Linked DNA regions of Homo sapiens. The protein of the gene in region 3 purifies or fractionates together with the protein of the main gene of each other region. This does not show direct contact. Each region holds a gene or a part of one and is shown on either strand. Other genes may lie near its edges. The genes, in order: RNASEL, RAB3B and HSD17B1.

Region 1 (3,212 bases), on a different chromosome or scaffold from region 3:
TGGGGTAGAGAACGGAAGAGCTGCCCAGGGGTCGGCTCCAAGACTTACCTCTCTCCCAGGCTGCAGCTCCAGCAAAGACCCACCAAAAATCAAATGTTAAAGGTTCTTCTCAACCAGTGAATTCAAGGAGTATCTTATAACTTAAATACACTACACACTTATAACACACCAGGCACCAAGTGAGGAAATGGGATATGATCTCTGCCCTCCCAGGCTTATTGGAGAGACAGGTAAATGCCACCAACTGCTGAGTAAAGCACACAGGGATAGAGCTTTTACCCCTGAGCAAGAGTACAGAATCAGCCTGCCTAATACAGGACCTGATATGAACCACATGCTCAATGAAATGTTTGTGACGATGACAACTGAATGAGAAATGTTTGCAGAATGTCAACAGAAACTCTCAGAGAATTCAAGCAGACGGAAAAATGATCATTTCCTCCCTTCTCTCACTACATACTAGGCCCACATTATTCCAGAATTACTAGAAAGTCAAAAATAACTCCTTTTCCCATTTTCAGACAGCAGGATGACCTTTCTTAAAACTTATCCAGGAATTACTTAGTGAATATTTTCTATTGTAGATATCACCCACTCCTTAAAGTGGAAATGTCACTTAAAGAAAATCAGACTAAATAAGACAATTTAAAGTTTTATTGAGTAAGCTTCACAAATGGGCATTTTAATTGACATGTCCAGGTGCTCATTACAAATCAGAGAACCAAAGCTTCATTTTAAAAGTTAAAGCAATCTTGCTGCTCATAAAGTATTTTTTAAGCCTTAAATTTGTTCCTAATCAACATTTAATTTCATTCAGTGGTATCTATTTATCCATTGCTAGATACCTCCTTTTCAGAAAGAACCTAAGGTACTGTTTTATTCCCATTACAAAGCTCCATCTCAACCACCACAATGATTCATGGAAAGAACATCAGACTTAGCACCAGAAAATTTGTTCAAATCAAGATAGTAACACTTCCTAGCTATACGTCCTAGAGGAAATCAAAATGTTTCTAACCTTAGTTTCCTCATCAGCAAAATAGGGATAACAATGTTGACCTTAAAGGATTGTTTTGAAAATTAAATAAAATAAAATACTCAGATGTAATGTATACATTATAAAGCACCAGAAAAACGTAAGACAGTATTATTATTCATGTACGAAGATGGTTCATTCATTATTCAATGAATATTTATTAAACATTCCCACTTGGCAGACTTTTTGCTTGGCAGTGAAGATACAAAGTCAAGAAAAGACAGCCATCGCCCGTGAGGAGCCTACATTCCAGTGGAGGAACCAAAACTAAAAGGCGGAGGAAAGCTCTGGGTGCTTGGGAGCCAGAAGGAGCTCCTAGACTGGGTATGGGAAGTGAGGGAGGCCTGGGAGCCTCCTGTGGGGCTGACACCAGAAGGAACTCCATCACTACAGATCCAGCAAGAGTAAATAAATCTGAGTCCCTCCTCTGTGGGGTGGTCCACACACTCCACAGTCCTGGGCCTTAAGCTAGTTCAAAAGCATCCCAGCCCCTTAAGTCAGGTTTTCTCAACCTCAGCACCATTGATATTTTTGTCTGGATAATTCTTTGTTGCAGGGGCTGTCCTGTGCAAGGCAGGTTTGGCAGCATCCCTGGTCTTTACCCACTAAATGCCATAGCATGCTCCCCACAAAGCTGTGACACCAAAAACTTCTTCAGACTCTGCCAAATGCTCTCTTCAGTGCAAAATTGCCCCCCAGTTGAGAACTACTGCCTTAAGGTCATGGAAAACCAATGCAGTTGGTTCTGGAAGGAGTGGAATTCATGCATCCAGTGCCCAGACTTATACTAGATGCTCAATAAATACTGAATGAATGAATGAGATTCCTGGAACCCCTATATATGTTTTGGGCCTCATCTGGAAGAGCCCTGGAAGGATAGTTAAGTTTTAAGGTGCCCAAATGAGAGGTACCAATAACACCACATAAATTTATAAAGTGCTAGGTATAAATTGAATAATCTTGGGCCAGTAGCTCACACTCTCTGAGTCTCAGGTTCCTCAGTTCTTAAATGGGGATGATAATCCCTGTTTTGCAAGATCATTGGGAAAATTAAGTGAGAGAATTGTAACATATGCAGCATTAGGGGTCAAGGCACTCATTCTTTTGGTGCAATTGACAAAAGGAATCTTAGCAGAATGTCCTCCCAGTTAGTGGGTAAAGCTTATGGACTAGTGTAGTCTGGGTATATATTGCTTTTGTTATAGACATATGGAATACACGATGCCAGGGACTGACATATCAGCTATGCAACTCATCCCTCACAAGCAACCTGGTGAGTTAAAAGGCCCAGAATGTTGTGATTTGCCAAGGACTCTACAGCTAATAAGTAGTTCCCTGAACTCCAGCAAATCAGTCCATCAGCACCCAGGGCTGGCCAACCCACTGGCCCCACCAGCTCCATCACACTGAGGCTTGTTTGGACTGTGGGTTTGGGGGAAATGCTTTCTATATTCTGTGTTCTGTAGTTTTGTGTAGACATAGATCACCAGATCTGGAAATGTCTTCTGAAAATACAGGGAAGGGTCTCCAATTTTTAATTTCATCCTGAAATAAAACACAAATTGTTCAGCATGCTTGCCCCAAATTATTCTTCCCCGCTTCACAGCATATGGCCCTGAAGATCTCTTTGCTCGCTTGATTTCTATTGCAGAATGAATAAGGACTTTGGAATCTGACAGAGCAAGACTCCTCCCCTGACTCTTCAACTAATTGTGCAACCTTTGGCCACAATCTTTCTGAACTTTAGATTGTTCTTTCATAAAATGGAAATAGTGCAATGCCACAATCCTCTACCTACAATTCCAAAATCCAGAAGAGCCCTGAACTGCAAGGCTTTTTTGTGAGTTTGCAACTAACATCTTTGTCAGCAAAAGCTGATCTAACTAATGTGGGCTATTTTTAGACGTATATAACTCTACCTTCACTTTATCTAGCTGTCCAGTCTCCTGTGTTACTTCACAGAAGGGAGTCACTAGCTCCTGTTCAATTTGTTTTACCATTTATCCAACAAAAAAATGACAAGGAAGATGAAAGCCTGCTGGACATGTCCCTCATTAATTGTAAGGCAACAGTGATAGCCCTTTTACACACAGAGGGAAGGAATTACTTTTCTTTCATCAAAATAAATTTTCTTTTTTCCATCGTAGATATAAACTTAGAATTGGATTTTTTAAAT
Region 2 (3,650 bases), on a different chromosome or scaffold from region 3:
CTGACTCTACCCTGACACTGACAACCTAACTCAACCCTAACTGCAACCTGAACCTACTACTGACCCTGCTCTTAAAGTTGATCTTACCACCAACCTTCTCATTTATGGTGAGAAGCCATTCCCTCAAAGGATGGAATTCACTCAACCACCACTTCTTGTGGGCCCACAGGAAACCAGGCCCCATTCTGGGCACTGGGGCTTGGATGGCAGGTAGGGGTGAGACTGAGACCAAGTTACCCACAGACAAAACTCAAAGGCCAGGGCTTGGGAGAGATAGACCCTCAGTCTTCAGACTCAAGGCAGGTAACTGGGGCCAGCTCTCCTTATCTCCCATGCTACTCTTTCTTTCATCTTCCTCCCTTCTCCCACCCCATTTCCTCTCAGCTCCCAGGTTAGCAACAAACTCAGGTTATTCTTGGAGGAATCGTCACCAGGTGTTAAAGTCACCGTGTTCCTGAGGCAGAATGAACAGAGACTGAGGGAGGAAGGGAAGGGGGTCAAGGCCAACAGGGAAATGGGCAGCGTGGAGACACTTCAGGGGAGATGTGATGAGAGAGAAGAGGAGGAGCAGGGAGAGGGGAGGAAGGGAGGAAAATGATGAGTGGAGAGAGTAAAGGGAAGGGGAAGAGAACAGAGGAAGGAGAGGAGAAAGACCCAAGGTAGAGGGAAGAAAGAGTTATTTAAAAGGAAGGGACAGAAAGGAGGAAGAAGAGGATAACCAGGAGGCAGAAAAGGAGAACACAGACCCCCAGGAATGACAGACATGCTGATGACACCCTGAACTGCTGGTCAGAACAGGGGAGTGCAGCAGGCAGCCCACAAGGTCACTCTCAGCTCAAGCTGTGTATGTGAAGCCAACACAATTATGACAACTGCTCCCTGGGAGAAGCGAAGTCCTCGAAGGTCACCATTAGGCAAAAGGGAGAAGGAGACAAGCCCAGCACTGGCCAGCACTGCTGCTGTGTGCCTGGTCTGCTCAGCCTCTCCGATTCTGAAGGACAGCCACCACACAGATGTCCCACCTTCCCCCATCCTCATCTGAGCAGGGACACTGGGTCCTGGCCCTCCCTCTCATGTGTCCTTCCCCTCAGGCTCCCTTCTCCTGGGAATCGTGCCCCAGGAAGAAAGCTATAAGTTGCTCAGAGGTTGCAACTCTGGGGTGCTGTACTGATTTCCATTGCATATTGAGCCTTGATGAACTTGGACTGTATGTGCTCCTGGACACCTGGCTCAGCCCAGGGATAAACTTTAAGTGCTATGTGGATTCACTCTCCACTGGAGCTACAGTAATCTTCCTGAAACACAAATGTGAACCTGTTGGTTTCTAATTCATACGTCATCACCTATGGGACAGAATCCAAACTCCTTATAGCAGCACACAAAACCCTTCATGACCTATGCCCTTCAACACTCGCACCTACCTTCTCACCTTTGCACATCTGTACTCATTTTCTGGAACATCCTTATTCATTTGTCCCTCGGGCTAACTCCTGTTCATCTTACAAAATGCAGCATATGTGTCAGCAACTCCAGGGCACTTTCTCTGACTCCCTAAACTGGGTCAGAGAGCCCTCTGCTGGGTTCCCACAGCCCTGATGCCTCGCTTCATCACTGCACCTAGCACACATTTTCTTTTCTTTTCTTTCTTTTTTTTTTTTTAAGATAGAGTCTCACTCTGTTGCCCAGGCTGGAGTGCAGTGGTGTGATCTCAGCTCACTGCAACCTCCGCCTCCCAGGTTCAAGCAATTCTCCTGCCTTAGCCTCCTGAGTAGCTGGGATTATAGGCACGTGCCACCACGCCTGGCTAATTTTTGTATTTTTAGTAGAGACGGGGTTTCACCATGTTGGCTAGGCTGGTCTCAAACTCCTGACCTCGGGTGATCTGGCTGCCTCGGCCTCCCAAAGTGCTGGGATTACAGGCGTGAGCCACTGCACCCGGCCTATCACATGATATTTTCATTCCTGCTTATGGATCTGTCTTCTGCTCTCGTCTGTAAACTCCTGAGGCCAGTAACCATGTCTGATTCATCTGGGCTTCCCCAGCACACAATACAGGACCTAGCACATGTTAGGTTTTAATGAACAGTTTGTTAAATGAATGAATGAATATGGGTCTCATACCAGTCTTGGACAGCATTGAAGGACTCTTCATTGGTGATGTCATACATCAGAATGAAGCCCATGGCCCCACGGTAATAGGCTGTTGTGATGGTCCGGTACCGCTCCTGCCCAGCTGTGTCCTGGGCAGGAAAAGAAAAGAAACAATCTCTTAGAAAGTCTGCTTTGGTTCCTAAAAAGTCCCCAGGACAATTAACTAATAACCCAAGACATTTTTTTTTTTTGAGATGGAGTTTTGCTCTTGTTGCCCAGGCTGGAGTGCCATGGCGCGATCTCAGCTCACTGCAACCTCTGCCTCCTAGGTTCAAGTGATTCTCCTGCCTCAGCTTCCCGAGTGGCTGGGATTACAAGCATGCACCACCATGCCCAGCTAATTTTGTATTTTTAGTAGAGACAGGGTTTCTCCATGTTGGTCAGGCAGGTCTCGAACTCCTGACCTCAGGTGATCCACCCGCCTCGGCCTCCCAAAGTGCTGGGATTACAGGAGTGAGCCACCGCGCCCAACCCAAGGCATATTTAAGGAGCATCTATTATGTGTCTTGTATTGTGCTTGCTGACTAGATTAAAATGATTTTTTAAATCTCATAGAATTTAATAAGAATAATTAAAATCCTAAAGGAAAAGTGGACAAGAGGCATGAACAAGCACATAAGAAATGTTGAGTGGGTAATTATTACATAAAAAGTTTTAACCTTATTTTTGTTTCTTTTTTTTTTTTTTTTTTTTTTTTAAGACAAAGCCTTACTCTGTTGCCCAGGCTGAGAGCCCTGGCACAATCATAGCTCACTGCAAGTTTGAATTTCTGGGCTGAAGCAATGCTCCCACCTCAGTCTCCGAGTAGCTGGGATTAAGGTTTTGTGCCACTGTGCCCAGCCCCTTATTTTTAATAATAATTCCCATGATTGATAAGCATGCAGTGAAATATACAAATTCACATCTTGCTTGTGGGAGTGGAACTTGGTTTAGCCTTTCTGGGAATCAATTTGGAAGTCTTAAGAGCATTAAAAATGTTCATACTCTTTGACCCAGAAATATTCCTTCTGGGAATTTTTCCCACAAAATTAGAAAAATTTTCCCTATAAAAATAGAAAATCAGACAAATATGTATGTACAAAAACACATTTGTTAAAACTTTATCTAGACAGTGAAAACATATCATCAACTTATATATTCAACAATAGGAGAATGGTTAAAATGTAAGAATTTTTATGTAAGTTCATGTATGTAAGAATATTTAACGATATGAGACAATACTTGTATGTGTGATGTATTAGTTTTATAACTATATGTGCACAGAAAAAAATAGAAGAAACACATCAAAAGGTTAATAGAGATTTTCTCTGAATAAGAGACAAGAATTACTGAGATTTTGATTTTCTTCATGTAATTTTTTTTTTTTTTTTGAGACAGGGTCTCACTGTGTGGCCCAGGCTGGAGTGCAGTGGAGCAATCTTGGCTCACTGCAATCTCCACCCCCTGGGCTCAAGTGATCCTCCCACCTCAGCCTCCTGAGTAGCACACCACCACACCCG
Region 3 (3,750 bases):
ATTACAGGCGACAGCCATCGCGCCTAGCTGCGCTGGTAAAACTGGCTAACGCGATCTATCTTAATTAGCCACCCACAGCTGCTACCGCCGCCCCATCCCCAGGGACCACACAGACCCAGGGGACAAAGAAGGGCGCGGGAGACAGCGGCTGAGGAAGCCTTTACTGCGGGGCGGCCGGAGGATCGCCGAGCTCAGGGTCCCCCACCGCACCGCGCCCGGCCTCGTCCTCTGCCCCAGGCCCGGCCCCGCCCCCAGCCTCGGCCCCAGCCTCGGCCTTTGCCGGAACGTCGCCGAACACTTCCCGGTGCATGGCGGTGACGTAGTTGGAGCCGCTGGGGTCGTCCAGGCGCATCCGCAGCAGGGGCAGGAAGCGCTCGGTGGTGAAGTAGCGCAGGGTCGGCTTCGGGGCGCGCAAAGCGGTGAGGAAGACCTGCGGCGGCGGGAGGAGAGCTGTGGCCACCGCTGCGCGCCGGAGGACGCACCGCCCCCACTCCTGGAGTCCAGCCCGGCGCTCACCTCCGCCACCTCCTCAGGGTTCTGCGCCGCCTCGCGAAAGACTTGCTTGCTGTGGGCGAGGTATTGGTAGAAGCGGTGGAAGGTGTGGATGTCCGTGCGGTCCAGCACCTCCTCTGGGCTGCCCAACACCTTCTCCATGAAGGCGGTGTGCACTGGGCCGCACTCGATCAGGCTCAAGCTGCTGGCCGGAGAGCAACGAGTGGGAGGGGGCGGACGCCAGCCAGGCCCCAGTCCCAGCCCCAACCCCAGTCCCAGCCCCAACCACGTCCCGGCCCCCGACCGCGAGCAGCACCGCTGCGCTGGGAAGTGAGGCGGAAAGGGCGCTGGGGATAACCAGAACATTTGAAACGCGGGTTCCTGCCGGAGCAGCCCTCCCAAATCCATCTGAGGCTACAAGGGAGCCCTGGTGTCAGGATTCGAATCTAGCGGGGTCCCTGGCCGCTGTGTGACCTTGGGCCAGTCACCTAACCTCTCTGGGCTGGAGCTTCCCCATAACAATACCAACACTTCAGCAGCTAGGTCAGCAGGTGGCACAATGCGTGCCATGCGCCCAGCCCAAGTGCCTGGCACACAGCTAATGTGAGCCGGGCAGAGAGGGCCAGGGAGATCGCCCCAGAGCGGCTCCCGCAGGACAGGGTGCTCGGCGTCTCTAGGTCAGAGTTAAGAGGGTTCGGGGAACGGGGGTGTTGACTCACTGGACCCCAAAGGGCAGCAGCAGAACCGCCAGACTCTCGCATAAGCCTTCGAGCGCGAACTTGCTGGCGCAATAAACGTCATTGAAAGGCAGCCCTTAGGTGGGGAGACGAGGTTCCTGAGGCGCAGCGGCCAGGGGGTCATCCCCGGGCAGACGGTGCCCCTCCAAGCTGACGGCACCCCACTCCACCCCCCCCGCGGAACCTGCCTTCAAGGCTCAGCTCCGCACACAAAGAATCTGGAGCTGCCGAGGCCACTCCCTACCACTCACCCATCAATCCTCCCACGCTCCCGGTCACCAACACGCGTCCCGAACCGCGCCTCTTCATGTCTGGCAGGAAGGCCTGCAGCATCCGCACAGTCCCTACTACATTCACGTCCAGCACAGAGGCCACGGCGTCCTCCCCCAGCGCCTCCAGCGGCCCCAGCAGGCCCAGGCCTGCGTTACACACTGCGGAGACAAGAGGCCCGACCAGCCCGCCTCAGCATCACCCTCAGCACGGCCTGTCCCCTCGTGCTCCCTGGGCCTGGGAACATGTTGGTTTCAACGCAGGGCGGAGAAGGCTCCTAGGAGCCCATATGCTTCCAGGAGGCTCACCCAGCACGTCCACGCGGCCCTCAGTCACGCGTTCCCGGGCAGCGGCCACGGATTTTGAGTCCCTTACGTCCAGCTGCAACGTCTCCAGGGATCCCGGAGGGCATGCCAGGGCCCGGGCCGCCTCCCACAGCCGGCCCTGTGTTTTCAGGTCCCTCAACGTGGCATACACTGGAGGTTTTGGGAGAGGAGGAAGATCTGACTTCCCTTCTGGCCTCCAAGGGCTCCTCCCTTCTCTCCCTCCCTGTCCCTGCCTATCTATACCTTTGAAGCTCTGGGATGGATCTGAAGCCAGACGTACGGCCAAGTGCAGGCCGATGCCCGAGGAACAGCCGGTGATGAGCACCACGGTGCGGGCCATGGTGAGACTGTGGGGAGAGGCTGGGGCTCTGGGCTTGATATCACCTGCTTCGCCCCGCCCCGCCTGCGGGCCCCCACCCCTTGTTGTGTCTCCCACGCAATCTCAAGGATAAGCCTTCCTGCGGGTCCCTGGCCCGCTCTCCCCACCCTGTTCTGAGCCAAAACAGACATGAGCCCACTGCTTGGAACAACAAACTGTCCTGGTTGCTGGTCAGAGGGAGGGGAGGCTTTACAAGCAGGTGTGGGTTCCCACGTGGGCACAGAGTGGCCCCCTGGGCAGATTCCCCTGGGTATGCCTCTGTGCCACAGGAGCGATTATAGTGACCGCAGTTTGCTGCAGAGGCTGTGAAAGTAAAGGCGTTGGGAGGTGGGAGATGATTGTATATGTGCTGGTTTCGTCCAGGGTTCCTAGCTCATAACTCACATGACCATGGTTACAGTCTTACGTTGTCATGTTGGGGTGCCTCAGGCCTCAAAAAACAGCCTTTCGTCTCTCTGACCTTCTCCTGTCCTCTTTTCAGCTGCCCAAGGCAGGACTCTAATCTGATTGTGGGTTGTAGGATCCTCATTCCAGAGTGGGTCCTTGCCCCATACCCTGGAGAAAGGAATGCTGCACAAAGGCCCAAAGAATCTGGACTGGCCTTGCTGGGCTTAGATCAGACCCTTTTTGCCCAATCACATTATCACAGTTGTCCATGCTTCAGTCATGGACAGCCAATGGAGTTCTCCATAAAAGGCCCAAAGGACAGGGTTCGGGAGCTTCTGAGGGCTGAACGTGTGGAGGCTGACAGAATGTGCCCAGAGGGTGACGTAACCCCAACTCTATGGAGATAGAAGCTCCTGCTCTGGACCCTTCCAGACCGCCCTGTCTGTATCTCTTCATATGGCTGTTTATTTCTATCCTTTAAAATATGCTTTGAGGCTGGGCACGGTGGCTCATGCCTGTAATCCCAGCACTTTGGGAGGCCCAGGAAAGGGGATTGTTGGAGCCCAGGAGTTCAAGACCAGGCCAGGTAACAGAGTGAGACCCGGTCTCTGCAAAAAATATTAAAAAGCTTCCCAAGTAGCCGGGACTACAGGTGTGTGCCATCACTGCCACCATACCCAGCTAATTTTTTGACTTTTTTGTAGAGACGGGGTCTCACTTTGTTTCCCAGGCTTTTTTTTATTTTTGAGACAAAGTATTGCTTAGGTTGGAGTGCAGTGTCTTAATCTTGGCTCACTGCATCCTGCATCTGCCTGGTTCAGGCGATTCTCCTGCATCAGCCTCCCGAGTAGCTGGGATTACAGGCACCCGCCACCACGCCCAGCTAATTTTTAGTATTTTTAGTAGAGACGGAGTTTCACCATGTTGGCCAGGCTGGTCTCAAACCCCTGATGTCAAGCGATCTGCCCACCTCAGCCTCCCAAAGTGCTCGGATTATAAAAAAGTGCCACCCCACCTGGCCCTGTCATTTTTAGAAGATTATTTTATTTTGAGACGGAGTTTCGCGCTTCTTGCCCAGGCTGGAGTGCTGTGGCACGATTCTGGCTCACTGCAACCTCCACCTCCCGGGTTCAAGCAGTTCTCCTGTCTCAGCCTCCCA

The links.
Region 1: the proteins of HSD17B1 (region 3) and RNASEL purify together in Homo sapiens (affinity purification with mass spectrometry; one large-scale study listed by BioGRID and IntAct). This does not show direct contact.
Region 2: the proteins of HSD17B1 (region 3) and RAB3B purify together in Homo sapiens (affinity purification with mass spectrometry; one large-scale study listed by BioGRID and IntAct). This does not show direct contact.

Annotation. Positions count from the first base shown.
Region 1 is NC_000001.11:182,572,998-182,576,209, forward strand, and holds the end of RNASEL (2-5A-dependent ribonuclease), read right to left. Parts: intron 2,582-3,212; coding exon 2,395-2,581; 3' UTR 637-2,394; downstream 1-636.
Region 2 is NC_000001.11:51,935,173-51,938,822, forward strand, and holds part of RAB3B (ras-related protein Rab-3B), read right to left. Parts: intron 2,241-3,650; coding exon 2,122-2,240; intron 1-2,121. UniProt on the Homo sapiens protein: The small GTPases Rab are key regulators of intracellular membrane trafficking, from the formation of transport vesicles to their fusion with membranes.
Region 3 is NC_000017.11:42,551,349-42,555,098, reverse strand, and holds the start of HSD17B1 (17-beta-hydroxysteroid dehydrogenase type 1), read right to left. Parts: upstream 2,177-3,750; 5' UTR 2,166-2,176; coding exon 2,069-2,165; exon of another isoform or gene 1,976-2,068; coding exon 1,808-1,975; exon of another isoform or gene 1,661-1,807; coding exon 1,481-1,660; exon of another isoform or gene 1,306-1,480; coding exon 1,212-1,305; exon of another isoform or gene 698-1,211; coding exon of another isoform or gene 695-697; coding exon 517-694; exon of another isoform or gene 431-516; coding exon 161-430; 3' UTR 1-160. UniProt on the Homo sapiens protein: Favors the reduction of estrogens and androgens. Converts estrone (E1) to a more potent estrogen, 17beta-estradiol (E2). Also has 20-alpha-HSD activity. Uses preferentially NADH.